Homo sapiens: one gene and its partner. The protein of the gene in region 1 interacts with the protein of each later gene in a pairwise test. Each region holds a gene or a part of one and is shown on either strand. Other genes may lie near its edges.

Region 1 (8,426 bases):
AATAAGAAAGCTGCTAGTTATCAGAACCTGGGCTTCTTAAACCACTGGTGTCTCCCCCTTTTTTTTTTCCCTTCCTTTCCCACGTATGGACCACTGGTGTCCTTATCCATAAAACAGAAATGACCAGAATGCCTGCCTTGGAGAACTCCCAGCATTTCTTTCTCTTCTATGAAGCCCAGGATAGCAGCTGAGGTGGAACATCCAGTGGGCTGCATCTACCTATCATCAGTTCATGCTGTCCTTCTGTCTGTCTCTTTGGGCGAGCCTGAGGTTGTTCATGTGGGATGATCCTCCAAGCCCCGCCTCATGCAGACAGCAGCGGCCAGAGATTTTCAGAAGCCTCAACTCCCACCTTACCTCCAGATATGGGGTCATATATTTCCTTTAAGGGAGTTGTGTTTTGTGAGTAATTTTTAAAATTTACAATATATAGGCTGTACTATTTTAAAGTGAAGTGTTTCATCTGGGGTAGGGTGAACTAATCACCAAACATACTGGAGGAAATGGTGAAAAACTCAAAAGAAAGATAATTTTTGCATTTTCTCTCGTTTGATTTTCCATTCACAAAGCAAACTATACTCCTTTTTTTTCCTATAAAAGTTCACACTGGCTGTGTTTCTATGAGGAGTCATATCACATAGCTCACAGTAAGATGACACTTCGTTCAATCTATTCTTAGGAACAATGTAAAAATACGTATGTGGTGAGATTAACAATTTTCTTATTTGAACTCTGAACACCAAAGCTGACAGTCTCCTCCCTCTTCAGATGTTTGAAATCCTTTATGTAAAAGCCTAATTTAAACTTTATAGTAATAGATAATATTTTTAAATGTAATGAGATTTAAATATATCAGTCCCAAAATGTTTATTAAAAGCAAATGTTTTTCTTCATGTTTGAAAAGTAAAAAATATTAATACAAAGTTGGTTCTTATACCTTAAGTCTTCTATTAACTTATCTCCATGTTTCTCCTTTACTTAATTTCCCAATTTTTGCATGAGCTGGTACAAAAAACATTACCCACTTCCCACAAATGATGGTACCATTAAATCGTATTCTGACTTATGGTGTCAGTGGAATTCTATTTTGATAGCCTGCTTCTTATAAGATTAGAAGGGGATAATTATATTACCTGTCATTCAAGTTAAGGCATCACACAGTTATCAGTTTGCATTTATTTTCTTTGAATTAATACAATTAAAATATATGTAATTCTTATTTCAGTTTGACTACACCTATCATGACACCTAATCCAAAGACAAAAATTAAATAGTTTGTTAGTATACATGAGGATAAAACCATGGCAATATGACAGGGTGTGGTTCTAACAAGTACTTCCTGTACATAAAATAAAGACCAGTTCTATATCTGGTCTTTAATCCAAGTCAAACTTTTCCTTAGTTTATTTTTGTAGTCTTTTAACTGTTAAGTGGTATGAATTCTTTTGGCTTATGCATTACATAAGCGCCATCCATAAAACTTGTTCTGGTATGTATCAAGGACCGTACAAATAATCATTGTTGGATCTAGAAATTTCACCCCTAAAAATATATCCTAAGGAAATAATTCCAAATGTAGGGAAAGCTATATTCAAAAATCTTTTCATTGTATTACTTAAAATAGTAAAAACTCGAAACAAGCTAAATAGTAAGATGAGAGTGATTGAGTAAATTATAGTAAACTAGCTGATAGAACTTTTTTATAGCAATTGAAAATGAAAGATTGTATATAAAAAGCAAGGAAGATGATTGTCATGATTTTTATTTAAATAATTTTTACTATAAAAAGTTTATATTCCATTTAAGAAAACAGGAAAATAAAGAGAATAGAAAAAAGAAAAATAATTATAATATTCGGGAAGAAAAGCAGACTACTCAGTTGTATCTGTAATACGATTATAATTTTTGTTAAATAATAGAGCAAGAATACTTGAAAGTTGTTTTACAGAGTTTTATTCTTTTCTTATCAGATATATGTAGCATAATTTGTAATATAGTCTTATTTATATTATTATTTATAATATACAAATAATATAGCATAATTTCTTATACGTTTATATTTAAAACTCAGAAACCCTCATTTGGAGCATTCTCCCATTCTTGCTGCCCAAATGAACAGGTAAAGAGTGCAAATTAAAAGATTGTTCCAGCTGGGCATTGTGGCTCATGCCTGTAATCCCAGCACTTTGGGAGGCTGAGGCAAGTGGATCACGAGGTCAAGAGTTCAATACCAGCCTAGCCAACATGGTAAAACCCCGTCTCTACTAAAAATACAAAAATTAGCTGGGCGTGGTGGTGCATGCCTGTAATCCCAGCTACTCGGCAGGCTGAGGCAGGAGAATCGCTTGAACCCGGTAGGTGGAGGTTGCAGTGAGCAGAGATCACGCCACTGCACTCCAACCTGAGCAAAAGAGCAATACTTCATCTCAAAAAAAAAAAAAAAAAAAAGGTTGCTCCACAGTCTTGCGTGGTAGGTACCAGTATTCCGACTTTACAGGTGAGAAACAGGCTGAGAGTTGAGCTAACTTATCCAAGGTCTCAAAGCTGGTACTAGCAGAACAGAGATTGACAATCACATCTTACTAGCTTTTGAATGCCTGAACTCTTTTTTCCCTTCCTGGTATCATCATGGTGAGAATCAAATGAGGCAAACATAGAAATGTATTCTGGAAATGGGGGTATTGCCCCTCCCTGGGGTTTCAGGATCACCCACTTTTCCCATGCCGTCCCACAAAGGACAGAGATCATAATTGTAAAGCTTTGTGAAAAAATAAACAAGATACTGGTAATATCCTGTTACAATTTTCTTTTTGAAAATGTCTCAGCCAGGCACAGTGGTTCACGCCTGTAATCCCAGCATTTTGGGAGGCTGAGGCAGGAGGATCATTTGAGGCCAGGAGTTTGAGACCAGCCTAGGCAACATAACGAGACTCCATCTCCACTTTTTTTTTTTTAATGTCTCAAATCTTCTGTTGTAGGGAAATTCTGATCTATGAGAGGCTGCTTGAAATAAATGGGCTACTGGCCAAGGCTTGGAAATGTTTGTGGTATGAGAAGGTCAGTTGTTATTTGGCATCGACAGATACATTATTATTGCTATTTAGAAACAATTAGTTTCTAAATATTTGAAACAATTAGTTTCAAATTATTGAAAAGGCAGTAAATGTAAAATTATTCCTTTGGAAAGACCCTATTTATAGAAAATTGTGCCTCAGGTATACATTTTGCTTACCATTAGATCTATTTCAATTCCAAAGGAATATATGGAGGGAGAGGGAGTATTTGTAGCTTCTAAAAATGTTCATGGAGGGGTGGCTTATTCTCTTTGCCCTTAGTTTAATAGAAGCAAGAGGTAGTTTGGAGTAGCAGGAAGTCAGAGATGGGTTCATTGTATCGTTATTTCTAGTCCTAGCTCTTCACTGTCCTTGGCAAGGTTCTTAACCTCTCTGGGTTCCCCTCTTCTTACCTTTCTCCTATTCTTCCCCAAGTGTGGGAGTCACACTTCAACACTATACACCCGGGAGTGTTGTGTTGTTAAAAAGTATTGTTAAATACTTTTTAAACGTGTTGAATACTTGTTAAATACTTTTTAAATGTGTATTTATTTATTTGAGTTAGTACTACATACACATGGTTCAACATGTAAAAGACATAAAGGGAAATTCAGTGCCATCTCCCTCCCACCTGCTCCTTTCTGCGTGTCCCTGTTCCAGTTCTCAGTTTTCTTTTTCAAACTCAGAAATCCCAAGAGTCTGTGAAGGGCAAATGAAAAGCAAAATGACTAGACTAAATCTGAATGAAAGGGATTTATTCTAAGGTGATACTGCTCACTGCTCAAGGTGCTTATCTGCCCCCTTCATGGGCTCCCTCAAGTTTTCTGAGACTTCAAACAGCAACACTCAACTAAACTATAAAATAGTCACAGCACCTTTTCGAGAAATTTTGACTTTGAACTTGCTAATATGCAAAGGAAATAGTCCAACCATTTCTCTAGAACTTGGTTGATAAGAAATTTTATTTTGTCCCATTTATAATTTTATTCTAAAAATTTGTTTTTTTCTGCTATCGAGTAGGAGAGAAGGGAATAAGGGAAAGATTTGTTTTTGCACTACTGTGAGATTTTTATACCTTAGGCCAGGACAAAGCACACAAGAAATAAAATATTAACAAAATGTCCTTAATTTTCCTTTCTGACCAAAATTGCTTGCCTCTGCATTTATATATAAAGAAGGGATGTGTTGAGCAAATGAAGGAGGACAGCTAGGCAGACAAGATTTGCCCAGCGCCTGGCATACAATAGGGGCACAGGTCATTGCTTAACAAAACGTATAATTTATTAATACATGCTCGAAGCACTGCTATACTAACCAAATATTCCCTGCAAAATTTTAAATTTACAGTGCAAAATAAGAATAATTTAAAAACTGTTTCTAGAAAAAGAGCTTTAAGGGCTTCCCCCCCCATAACAATTTAAGATTAACCTAGAACATGGTAGTTATTTTGCAAGAACTGGGGAGCACCACTCTCTTCTCCTTGTGCATGTCTGACATTGGAGGCCTATTGTGCACGAAGTTGTGATCAAAATCCAAGTCAATTCATTTTGAAAAGTAACATGACTACAACATCCATCCACTCCAATGAGCAAAGGGTGTAGGCTTTGAGTATACACAGCAGGCCACACACTATGGGTCATGGCATACAGTCTAGCGTTGGAGGTTGCTGCATTTGTTCATGTATCTATGAGTTAGGTTTTAAGTTTTTTCCCCCTGTTCTATTAATATAATTAATTAGTTAATTAACCCCACTCATTCATTTACTCAGTCCACAGCCTTTTGTTAAGAGCCCGCCTAGGACATAAAGATGAAGATCCAGTGCCTACCCTCATGAAACATAGAATCCGAGCGAAGAAGGCTTACTTTGCAATAGTCATCCAAGTGGTGCTTTTATGGCGCTTTACTGCTCCCGCCAACACCCAGTGCCTGGGTATGACCTCAGGCGGTGGCAGAGCCCGCGTGCGAGGTCCCGCTCTCCCTGGCTTGCCCCGGCAGGGCGGAGTCAGCCTAGCAGCCGCCGGCGCTGCCCCCGCGCGGCCTTTAATTTTGCAGCTCCGACCACCGGAAATTAGTCGAAGGCTGAGCGGACCCGGTCGAGAGCCGGCGAGCTCCGCGCAGGGAGGGTGCGCCCACCGGTCCCGCCGGGCGCCCGCGGGACGCGCCGCCAGGGCCCTCTCCGCCGGGGGCTCGGCGCTCGCCCACCTCTTCCAAATTTAACCATTACCTAAATCCGAAGGGAAATGAGCAAACCTCTCGGATTGGGTGTCAAGGTATTTTCAGCCTCGTTGGGCGTATTTATCCCCAAGTGTTTCCACAACAAGCTATTTCGGGGCCTGCGGGGCAGGTTTCGCTCTGCGGACGCCGTGGCCACTCGCCGGGCTCCAGGCCGGCGGCACCGCGGGCCGGTGATTCACGGTCCCGACCCGGGGGTGGTGCAGCCCTAGGAGGCGGCGGGGTCGGGGGTGGGGGGGGCGGGTGACCGAGGCCTGAGGGGCGGGGAGGGTCCTCGGAGCGGGGCGCCCCCCACCCCTCTCTCGCCAGTCAATCTGTGTCCTCAATCTGTGGCTTCTCTCGCTGCGGAAGTCTCCCTGGAGCCAAGAATAGTTCATTTTCTTTCAAGTCATTTCTAGTGCCTAAGTGTCCGGACCTCCAATTTCCCCCATCCCCTGCCGACCCACAGGGAGAGAACTGGGAGGACTACTAAGGGGCGCGCGGGACGGGCTGGAAAGGCCAGGCCCCCCACCGCCTGGCCACTTGCGCAAAGGAGCGCGCCCGGCCGCCCGACGGGGGTTGGGAGCAGGTCTGGGAGGGCTATGCGAGCGACTCAGTAACGCTCAGGAAGTGAAGCTTGTGGTTTTGGGGGCTGAGCTCGGAAGGAGAATTTTTTTTTTTTTTAAGTCAGAGAGATAGAGCGGTCTCTCCCGAAAGCAAGATTCCGTTTGAAAACTCTCCTAGCGCGGTGCCCGCGCCGTGACTCCGCAGGTAGGTCCGCCGAGCCTGTTCTGCGCCTCCTGCCCTGGTGGGGGCGGCCGCGGGGACTCGCAGAGCACTGGCACTGCGGGGGCGATCAGAGGGCGCGGGCGGTTTCCCACCTGCTGCGGACCGCCGTGCGGGAGCCCAGAGAGCTCCGGCAGCTGGGTTAGGGCGCGACCCGCGCAGTGTGACTGGAAATCTGGAGCTGGGGGCGCGCAGCAGGCGGTCTGGTGGTTCGGCAGGGGAGCCAAATCCACCAGGGAAGGAAACATCTGGTGGGGAGGCGGCGGCAGCTGCGCTCGGGAGGACGCCCCCTTAGCGCCCTCGGCTCCCTCCTTCCTGGGCCCGGACGGTGAGGAGAGGCCTGAGCGCGCGGAGGGGCCGCCCCACCTCCCGCGCCAGCTGCAGCGCGGGGTTGCCTTCCCACGCGCTCGGCCCAGGCCCCGGGGCCCCTATCTCCTCCAAACTCTGTCGCTCCCCACAGGAACCAGCAAAGCGGGCCGGGGTGCGAGAGAGGCGTGGGCTTACAGCCCGGGTGGGGAGGCGGCCTCCGCGTCCGCCTGGTCTCTGGTGGCGCCAGCCCAGACCCAGCTCCGGCGCTGACAGTTACCCCGCCCCCATCTGTCCCGCTCCCAGCCAACGTGGGTCCAAGCTGCAGCGGGACCCTCGGGACAACGCCACTCCGTTTTTCTTTTCTTCCGAGTTTCGTGGCTGTTTAAAGAATTGGGTTTGGGGTTTGTGGCGTCTAATTGTACGGACGAGAAGTGCAGGAAGCGACAAAGCTCTAGCCCTAGGAGCCACCCCGGAGGGAGGCGGATGGCACTCTCACCCCTAGGGGCATTCTGGCGCTTGGGTAGCGGGAAACTTCGCGGGAGCCCCGCGACACGTCCCAGGCGTCTTTTCTCCCAGGTCTATTCCCATTCCTCCGGAGAAGGGGACACAATGGGGCTGGGGATCTGGAGCAGGGGGCCTGCACCCTACAGGGACCAAGGCCTGTAGGACTCGTTTGAGCTGAGAGCGCCAACGGACAGACGTAGACTGTGTGGCCTGCATCTTGCCTAGGAAGCCGAGGGGCTCCTAGTCCGGCAGTGGAAACAGCGCGAAGCCGGAGGACTGCAGGTCCTGCCCCGGCCCAGAGTTCCCAGCACCCTCGTTTCTGAACCAGCCGAGGCCACGGAGAACTGCTGTACTGCAGCTCACGTGTGAACCCGGTCACCATCGCCTTCACCCCGGGAGGAAGGCAGATTCGTTTACTCCAGACCACCTCGACTGTGGGGTACCGCCCCCGGAGCCGGCTGGAGCCTAGCGGCAGGCGCAGCCACGCCCTCCCGCTGCGCTCAGATTTCGACCTGGTATTAGGTGAACTGATTGGGGGTTAATGAGAGCGACGCCCCGGGCAGCTAGTTCCCTCCCGGGCCCGGGCCCGACCCCCGCTCTCTGCTAATGCAGCCTGCGCGCTCTGGCGTCCTGTCTTTTTTGTCTGCTAAATTGTCGGTGCACTACCGACTCGGGACACCTAGCATTTCCCAGTCAACGTTCGTGGATCGGGCTCCACCTCCCTAGGACAAGATTTTTTGGTGAGCAGAACGGAAAGTGCTTTTTTCCCGGGACCTGATTCCCGAGGTTAGGTCTCCATGGTCTGGGATGGCTCGCCGCAGCCTCGACCGGTGCCCGCCGCAGCCGGGAGTCCAAGGGCAAAGTTTCTCCTACGTGGGGCACTAGTGAGGGGCGAGTGGGATCACCCAGATGCGAGTTTCTCCTGGGGCGGGGGTTGGTCGTCTGTTGTTCCCCTCACTTTCCTGTCCCTTTGCTCTCCCACCTCCTTTCTCTGGCCTCTGCTGTCCCCAATCCCTCTGCTGCTGTCCTCCCGCCGCCCCACAGTTTTATCTTGTGTTCTGTTCCCCCCTCCCCCCGGTCCTTTCACTCCAGTTGGTAGCTGGCTCTTGGAGGTCTTGGCTCCTTGCCCCTTCCGGGTCCTCGACCACTGGGCATCCCCGGCCCCTAAACCGATCCGCGTGTCCCCGCCCTCCCTCGCCAGCCGTAAAGCACAGCCAGGCAGGCGATGAGTAGCTGAGTTGGGGTAACCCACCCGATGGGAACTACAGCTCTCCAGGGAGTTTGATTGCCGGAGCGAGCTTCGCTAGGAAAGGGGAGGAGCTGGGGGGCGTGGGCAGGGAGGAGGAAAGGGGCCTGAGACAGGGCCCCGGGACAGGTTTTACCGCTGAGCTGTGTCAGTGGCGGCGGCGGCAACGACGGCGGGTTCGCGCCACCTGTCCAAGTGCCACCTGGTAAGCGCGGCGCAGCAGGGTCAAGCCCCTCCTCCCGTGGGCCCTCTGCGCGCCTCCCTGGCCCGCGCTCTCCCTCCGCCTGGGTGCCCAGTCCGCCGCACCGGAGAGTACT
Region 2 (7,485 bases), on another chromosome or scaffold:
TGAGACACAGTCTCTGTTGCCCAGGCTGGAGTGTAGTGGTGCAATCTCGGCTCACTGCAGCCTCTACCTCCCGGGTTCAAGCGATTCTCCTGCCTCAGCCTCTCGAGTAGCTGGGATTATAGGCACGAGCCACCACGCCTGGATAATTTTTTGTATTTTTAGTAGAGACAGGGTTTCGCTATGTTTGTCAGGCTGGTCTCAAACTCCTGACTTCAGGTGATCCACCCACCTTGGCTTCCCAAAGTGCTGGGACTACAGGTGTGAGCCACCACGCCCAGCCTGATTTTTATTTTTACAGTTTATCTCATTCTTTGGAACAAGAGCACTTTTAAAGCTCATTGGAACCTCCGAGTCCCGCACACCGGGTTGGGGAGCGGAGAAAGTATCCAACGGCGGCTGAAGAAATCTGATTCACCTGCAGTTTCTAGAAGCCTTCTATTTCCTGCTTAGCAACAGGGTGGGAGACTCTTCACCCAGTTATGTTTATAGTCTCCTTGTTCAGTCCAGACGGTCACCTTCCTCGTGTGTCTCGTATATCAGATGCAGTCACACAGCACACTGGCAGGAAATGCACATCAGACATCTTCCAGGCTGTGTCTCTGTGGCTTTTGTTAAAGCTACCAGAGATGTATTGGAACACATTTAGAATTTTTCCTTAGAGACAAGGGCAGATATCCTAACCCAAACTGAAAGCTGAGCTGTCAGGCTCCAGACGTGTGGGAAGCCCATATTGGATGAGAGGTGGTCCTCATGCAGTGTTAGGAGCGGGCACCTGTGGAGCTGGGCAGGTGAGCGTTTTTTTTTTTTATTTTGAGACAGTCTCGCTCTGTTGCCCATGCTGGAGTGCAGCGGCGTGATCTCGGCTCCCTGCAACCTCCACCTCCCAGGTTCGAGCGATTCTCCTGCCTCGGTCTCCCAAGAAGCTGGGATTACAGGCACGTGCCTTCATGCCCAGCTAATTTTTGTATTTTTAGTAGAGACGGGGTTTCACCATGTTGGCCAGGCTGGTCTCGAACTCCTGACCTCAAGTAATCCGCCTGCCTCGGCTTCCCAAAGTGCTGGGATTACAGGTGGGAGCCTGCGCCTGGCTGAGCATGTTTAACATTGAACTTCAGATTACGTAATGACTGAGTGTCCCAGGCCACTGCCAAGTCTTTGGAATGAGGAACGTAGTGATGAAGTGTTACTTCCTTAAAGAATTTGAAACAAGGCTGGGCGTAGTGGCTCGCCCCCATAATCCCACACTTTGGGAGGCCAAAGTGGGAGGATTTCTTGAGCCCAGGAGTTTGAGACAAGCCTGGGCAACGTAGTGTCTCTACTAAAAAGAAAAAGAATTCCTGGGCTGGTTGCAATGGGTCATGCCTGTAATCCTAGCACTTTGGGAGGCTGAGGTGGACAGATTGCTTGAGCGCAGGAGTTAAAGATCAGTCTGGGCAACATAGTGAGACTCCATCTCTACAAAAATTAGCCAGGTGTGGTGACAGGTGCCTGTGGTCCCAGCTACTCGGGAGGCTGAGGCAGGAGGACTGATTTGAGCCCAGGACGGAGGTTGCAGTGAGCCAAGATAGCATTGCTGCACTCCCTCCAGCCTGGGCACTAGAATGAGACTCTATCTCCAAATAAATAAATAATGTTTTTTTGTTTTGTTTTTCAGACAGAGTCTTGCTCTGTCACCCAGGCTGCAGTGCCGTGGCGTGATCTTGAACTGCCTTGTGGGTTTAAGCGATCCTTGTGCCTCAGACTCCTGAGTAGCTGGGACTATAGGTGTGCGCCACCACATTCAGCTAATTTTTTTGTATTTTTGGTAGACTTGGGGTTTCACCTTCTTGGCCAGGCTGGTCTCAAACTTCTGGCCTCAAGCAATTTGTCTGCCTCAGCCTCCCAAAGTGCTGGGATTATAGGTGTGAGCCCCCTCAGCCCAGCAGGATTGTGTTTTAAATGAATCTTATATTGAATTTCCCACAAGTACCAGGACACAGGGCTAATTCTTAACATTTTTCTCATGATGGAAGGAAGCATAATGGATTATGAAAATCACTTCTGTGGCTGGGTGCTGGGGCTCATGCCTATAATTCCAACACTTTGGGAGGCTAAGGCAGAAGGATTGTTTGAGGCCACGTGTTCAAGACCAGCCTGGGCAACACAGCAAAACCCCATCTCTAGGAAAATTACAAAAATAGCTGGGTATAGTGGTGTGTGCTTATAGCCCCTGCTACTCAGGAGCCTGAGGTGGGAGGATCACTTGAGCCTGGGAGGTCGAGGCTGCAGCCAGCTATGACTGCACCACTGCACTCCACCATGGGCAACAGAGTAGACTTTGTCTCAAGAAAAATAAAATCACTTCTGTGTAAAGTTGTTGACTGGAGGCTCCTCCTGGAGCTGGTCTCTGAATTCTTATTTATTCATTTATTTTTTTAACTGAGTCTCAGTTGCCCAGGCTGGAGTGCAGTGGTGTGACCTCAGCTCACTGCACCCTACGTCTCCTGGTTCAAGTGATTCTCCTGCCCCAGCCTCCTGAGTAGCTGGGACTACGGGTACCCTCCACCACGCCTGGCTAATTTTTTTTTTTTTTTTTATTAAATGGAGTCTCACTCTGTCACTGATGCTGGAGTGCAGTGGCACCGTGTTGGCTCACTGCAACCTCCGTCTCCTGGTTTCAAGCAATTCTTCTGCCTCAGCCTCCCCAGTAGCTGGGATTACAGGCGCCCACCATGCCTGGCTAGTTTTTTTTAAAAATATTTTTAGTAGAGATGGGGTTTCACCATCTTGGCCAGGCTGGTCTCGAACTCCTGACCTCAGGTGATCCACTTGCCTCGGCCTCCCAAAGTGCTGGGATTACAGGCGTGAACCACCGCGCGCAGCCAATTTTTGTATTTTTAGTAGAGACAGGGTTTCACCCTGTTGACCAGGCTGGTCTCAAACTCCTGACCTCAGGTGATCTACCCACCTCAGCCTCCCAAAGTGCTGGAATTACAGGCGTGAGCCACCATGCCTAGCCTTGGTCCCTCAATTCTGTTCATCCCGTCCAGGCCGTGCTGTCCTCCATGCTGTGAACCGAGCTTCCTCCTGGGAGTTGGAGGGAGGGCCACCTGTCACTTGCCACACTGTCTTGTAGGATCAGGAGCGTCTGGGCAAGCAGCTCAAGTTACGTGCAGAAAGGGAAGAAAAGGAGAAGCTGAAAGAGGAGGCCAAGCGGGCCAAGGAGGAGGCCAAGAAGAAGAAGGAGGAAGAGAAGGAGCTTAAGGAAAAGGAGAGGCGGGAGAAGCGGGAGAAGGATGAGAAGGAGAAGGCGGAGAAGCAGCGGCTCAAGGAGGAGCGGCGCAAGGAGAGACAGGAAGCCCTGGAGTGAGTGTCCTTGGAGGCCATGCTGGGCCCGCCACCCTGCTGCTGGATTCCGCTCCTGGCCACTCTGATGGGGCCTTTCCACTTCACAGGCAGATGGCGGCTCCCTTCAGTTCCTTCCCATTTCTCCTTCGTGAGGTGCCCGTGGGGCCCTGACGTGGGAGCGGTGGAAAGCAGCTCCCTGCTCTTTAGTGCTCCCCCACGTCCAACTCACCCTGGACCCCTTGTCTCTGCTGTGACCATCCTTCCAGTTCCCAACCAACTTAGGCATTTGCATTGCAGGATTGTGGGTTTTGTCTGTGCTAATTGTGCTCTGACTGGCTAAAGTTTTTTATATATATTCTAGTCACAGGAAGAATTTTATTGACTGTTTTCCATTTTTATTGTGAAGACCTATGTAAAAGCCTTATACTAGACATGAAAATAACTTATATTCATTTAATGTAAAATGAAATACTTGCCATATACTAACAGTTGAGTGCTGCGGTCCCTTCCAGAGCCAAAGCAAAGAGTCGGCTGAAATGTCATTTGCTGTCTCACAGGGCTAAACTTGAGGAAAAAAGGAAAAAGGAAGAAGAGAAACGGTTAAGAGAAGAAGAGAAGGTAGAGTGTTTCCCACAGAGCTTCCCCGTCCCAGCCCGTTGGAGAAGCAGATGCCCAAAGTGGAATTCTTGCCACAGCCGTCACCTAATATTCTCTTGGTTTGGGGAAACCAAATGGCGCCCGCAGGGAGGGCGAGTCTGTCTAGATGCGTTCTTGTTGCTTCTTCCCAGTGCTGGCTGTCACATGCCTACTGGCCCTGCAATCCTGGCACTTCTACCCACAAGGGCAACTTGGACATTTTGAGATTGGCTGGCTCAGTTGCGGGTCCGTGGGTTTTGAGAGCTGAAAATCACAGTAGTGCCTTCAAGCTAAAATGCTTGACGTTCGGTTCTGGGGGCCTTTGCATGTTTTGCAACACATACTGTTCCTCTTCCTCTCCTCTTTCTCATCACCATCTCTTAACATCACAGCGCATTAAAGCAGAGAAGGCCGAAATCACGAGGTTCTTCCAGAAACCAAAGACTCCACAGGCCCCCAAGGTGAGCAGCCGGCTGCCTTTGCTTTTGGGTTTCAGCTCTGCTAGACTTTTCCTTTCTGAAAGTGAAAGGGTCTCTCCCCAGCCAGCTTCTCTCATTAGGAGGGAGGGAGCCTCCAGTGACCTAGGGCACTTCCATTTCTGGTTAAGTCTTGAGGCTCAATATTTTGTCCTTCGCTTTGTCCCAAAGAGGTAAAAAGTGGCATGTCTGATTAAACAGTGCTGTTTTCAGAGGTTACTTCATGAATAATTTTGTGTTAGGCGTAAGAGAAATTCACCATGTTTTTACCCTTGGGAAACTTAGGCTTAAGGAGGGAGCACGTTTAGCTGTAAAACAACAGTACAATTCACAAAGGTTTACTTTCCCTGCCTGGCGTCGGTCACCTGGCATCTCAGACCTTCTGAGCCACCATCTGTGCATGGAAACCACAGCCCTCCTTCCCCTTTACCCAGAGGGAGCCCATCTCCAATGTTAGGGGTCCTTCAGTGCCTTTCCCTGCTCCACTCACTGTATTTATACACATGTGTACTTAGCTATCTCAGATTTGTGCCATGTTGCCACATTTAGATGTATTTCATTCTTTTTAATGTATCTGGCCTTTATTTATTTTTTGAGGCAGGGTCTCACTGTCACCCAGGCTGTAGTGCAGTTGCACAATCAAAGCTCACCACAGCCTTGACCTCTCAGGGTCTGGTGATCCTGTCACCTCAGCCTTCCCGAGTAGCTGGGACTACAGGCATGTGCCACCATGCCTGGCTAATTTTTTATTTTTATTTTTTTTGAGATGGAGTCTCACTCTGTCACCCAGGCTGCAGTACAGTGGTGCGATCTCAGCTCACTGCAACGTCCACCTCCCGGGTTCCAGTGATTCTTCTGTGTCAGCCTCCCAGGTAGCTGGGATTACAGGCACATGCTACCACACCTGGCTAATTTTTGTATTTTTAGTATAGACGGGGTTTTACCATGTTGGCTAGGCTGGTCTTGAACTCCTGACCTCAGGTGATCCGCCCGCCTCAGCCTCCCGAAGTGCCGGGATTATAGGCGTGAGCCACCGTGCCCGGCCTAATTTTTTAATTTTTTTTTGTAGAGACTGGGTTTTGCTATGTTGCCCAGGCTGGTCTCGACGACCTGGCTTCAAATGATCCTCCAAACCTCGGCCTCTCAAAGCACTTGGATTACAGGTGTGAGTCCCTGCACCTGGCCTGTCCTTTTATTTGTATGTTGAGACATTTGATGGCAATTGTGTATCCTGAAGGTGCACAATGTGACATTGTTGTACCTACACATCATATTGTGACAGCCAGAGATCCACATCATGTATTTTCACTGCCGCATAATACTTCATAATGCAATGATATGGTTTCTCTCTTTTTTTACAAAAATTATTTATTTATTTAGAGACGGAGTATTGCTCTGTCACCCATGCTGGAGAGCAGTGGCGCTATCTCTCGGCTCACTCTAACCTTTGTCTCCCGGGTTCAAGCAATTCTTCTACCTCAGCCTCCCGAGTAGCTGGGATTACAGGTGCCTGCCACCACTCCCAGCTAATTTTTTGTGTTTTTAGTAGAGACGGGGTTTCACCATATTGGCCAGGCTGGTCTTGAACTCCTGACCTCAGATGATCTGCCCATCTCAGCCTCCCTAATTTTATTTTTAGTAGAGACTGGGTCTCACTGTGTTGCCAGGGCTGGTCTCGACCTCCTGGTCTCAAGCATTTCTCTCGCTTTGGCCACCCACCGTGCTAGGATCACAGGCATGAGCCACAGAGCCTGCCACTATCTCAACCTCTTTGCCCCTCAGTGGTGTAGGGGGGGTCCCTGCACATGCTTCTCTGCACACATGCATTCCTCTGGGACAGCCAAGTAAGCATGAGTTCACCTCTAGGACAAAATAGCATATTGCTGAAGCATCATGAGCCATGGCCAGAGTGCGTGCCAGATGGGAAACTCAGATGTACATTCCCGGCGATGTGTGGAAATTTCCTCCCCATTCTCTGCTATCACTGCAATTTTTATGGGATTAATTTTCTTTTAACTTTGCCAGTCTGATGGATTTTTAAAAATTGACATTGTTTTACTTTCCATTTTTACTTGACTCTTGGTGCAGTTGAGCATCTTTTTCTGTTCGTTTGCCATTTTAGTTCTTCTATGACTTGCCAATTCCTATTTTTTTACCTATTTTTCTACAGGATTTTCTTTTTTTTTCTTTGCCTGATCTGTAAGTTTTTTTTAACATAGTCTAGTATTTCATTCTCCGTGATATTTCGTCTCAGCCTGTTACCTCTTTGTTTACAGTCTTTTTTTTTTTTTTTTTTGAGACACAGTTTCACTCTGTTGCTGAGGCTGGAGTGCAGTGGTGCCATCTCGGCTCACTGCAAGCTCCACCTCCTGGGTTCACACCATTCTCCTGCCTCAGCCTCCCGAGTAGCTGGGACTACAAGCGCCCGCCACCATGCCCCGCTAATTTTTTGTATTTTTAGTAGAGACGGGGTTTGCACCGTGTTGGCCAGGATGGTCTCGATCTCCTGACCTTGTGATCCGCCCGCCTCGGCCTCCCAAAGGGCTGGGATTACAGGTGTGAGCCACCGTGCCCGGCCTTTGTTGTTTTTTGTTTGTTTGTTTTGAGACAAAGTTTCGCTCATTGCCCAGGCTGGAGTGCAGTGGCATGATCTCAGCTCACCACAACCTCTGCCTCCTGCGTTCAAATGATTCTCTTGCCTCAGCCTCCCGAGTAGCTGAGATTACAGGCATGTGCTGCCACGCCCAGCTAATTTTGTATTTTTAGTAGAGACGGGGTTTTTCCATGTTGGTCAGGCTTGTCTTGAACTACTGACCTCAGGTGATCCGCCTACCTCGGCCTCCCAAAGTGCTGGGATTACAGGTGTGAGCCACCACGCCCAGCTACAGTGTCTTTCATTATACTGAAATTTCTCCTTTTGGCCAGGTGCGGTGGCTTATGCCTGTAATCTCAGCATTTGGGGAGGCCAAGGCGGGTGAATCATCTGAGGTCAGGAGCTTGAGACCAGCCTGGCCAACAAGGTGTCTCTACTAAAAATACTAAAAAT

What was found.
Region 2: the proteins of GFI1 (region 1) and CHAF1A interact in binary tests that used the Homo sapiens proteins (3 or more experiments, as listed by UniProt).

The regions. Positions count from the first base shown.
Region 1 is NC_000001.11:92,483,623-92,492,048, reverse strand, and holds the start of GFI1 (zinc finger protein Gfi-1), read left to right. Parts: upstream 1-5,123; 5' UTR 5,124-5,323; intron 5,324-5,949; exon of another isoform or gene 5,950-7,603; intron 7,604-8,234; exon of another isoform or gene 8,235-8,314; intron 8,315-8,426. UniProt on the Homo sapiens protein: Transcription repressor essential for hematopoiesis. Functions in a cell-context and development-specific manner. Binds to 5'-TAAATCAC[AT]GCA-3' in the promoter region of a large number of genes.
Region 2 is NC_000019.10:4,419,451-4,426,935, forward strand, and holds part of CHAF1A (chromatin assembly factor 1 subunit A), read left to right. Parts: intron 1-3,115; coding exon 3,116-3,345; intron 3,346-3,884; coding exon 3,885-3,945; intron 3,946-4,355; coding exon 4,356-4,424; intron 4,425-7,485. UniProt on the Homo sapiens protein: Acts as a component of the histone chaperone complex chromatin assembly factor 1 (CAF-1), which assembles histone octamers onto DNA during replication and repair.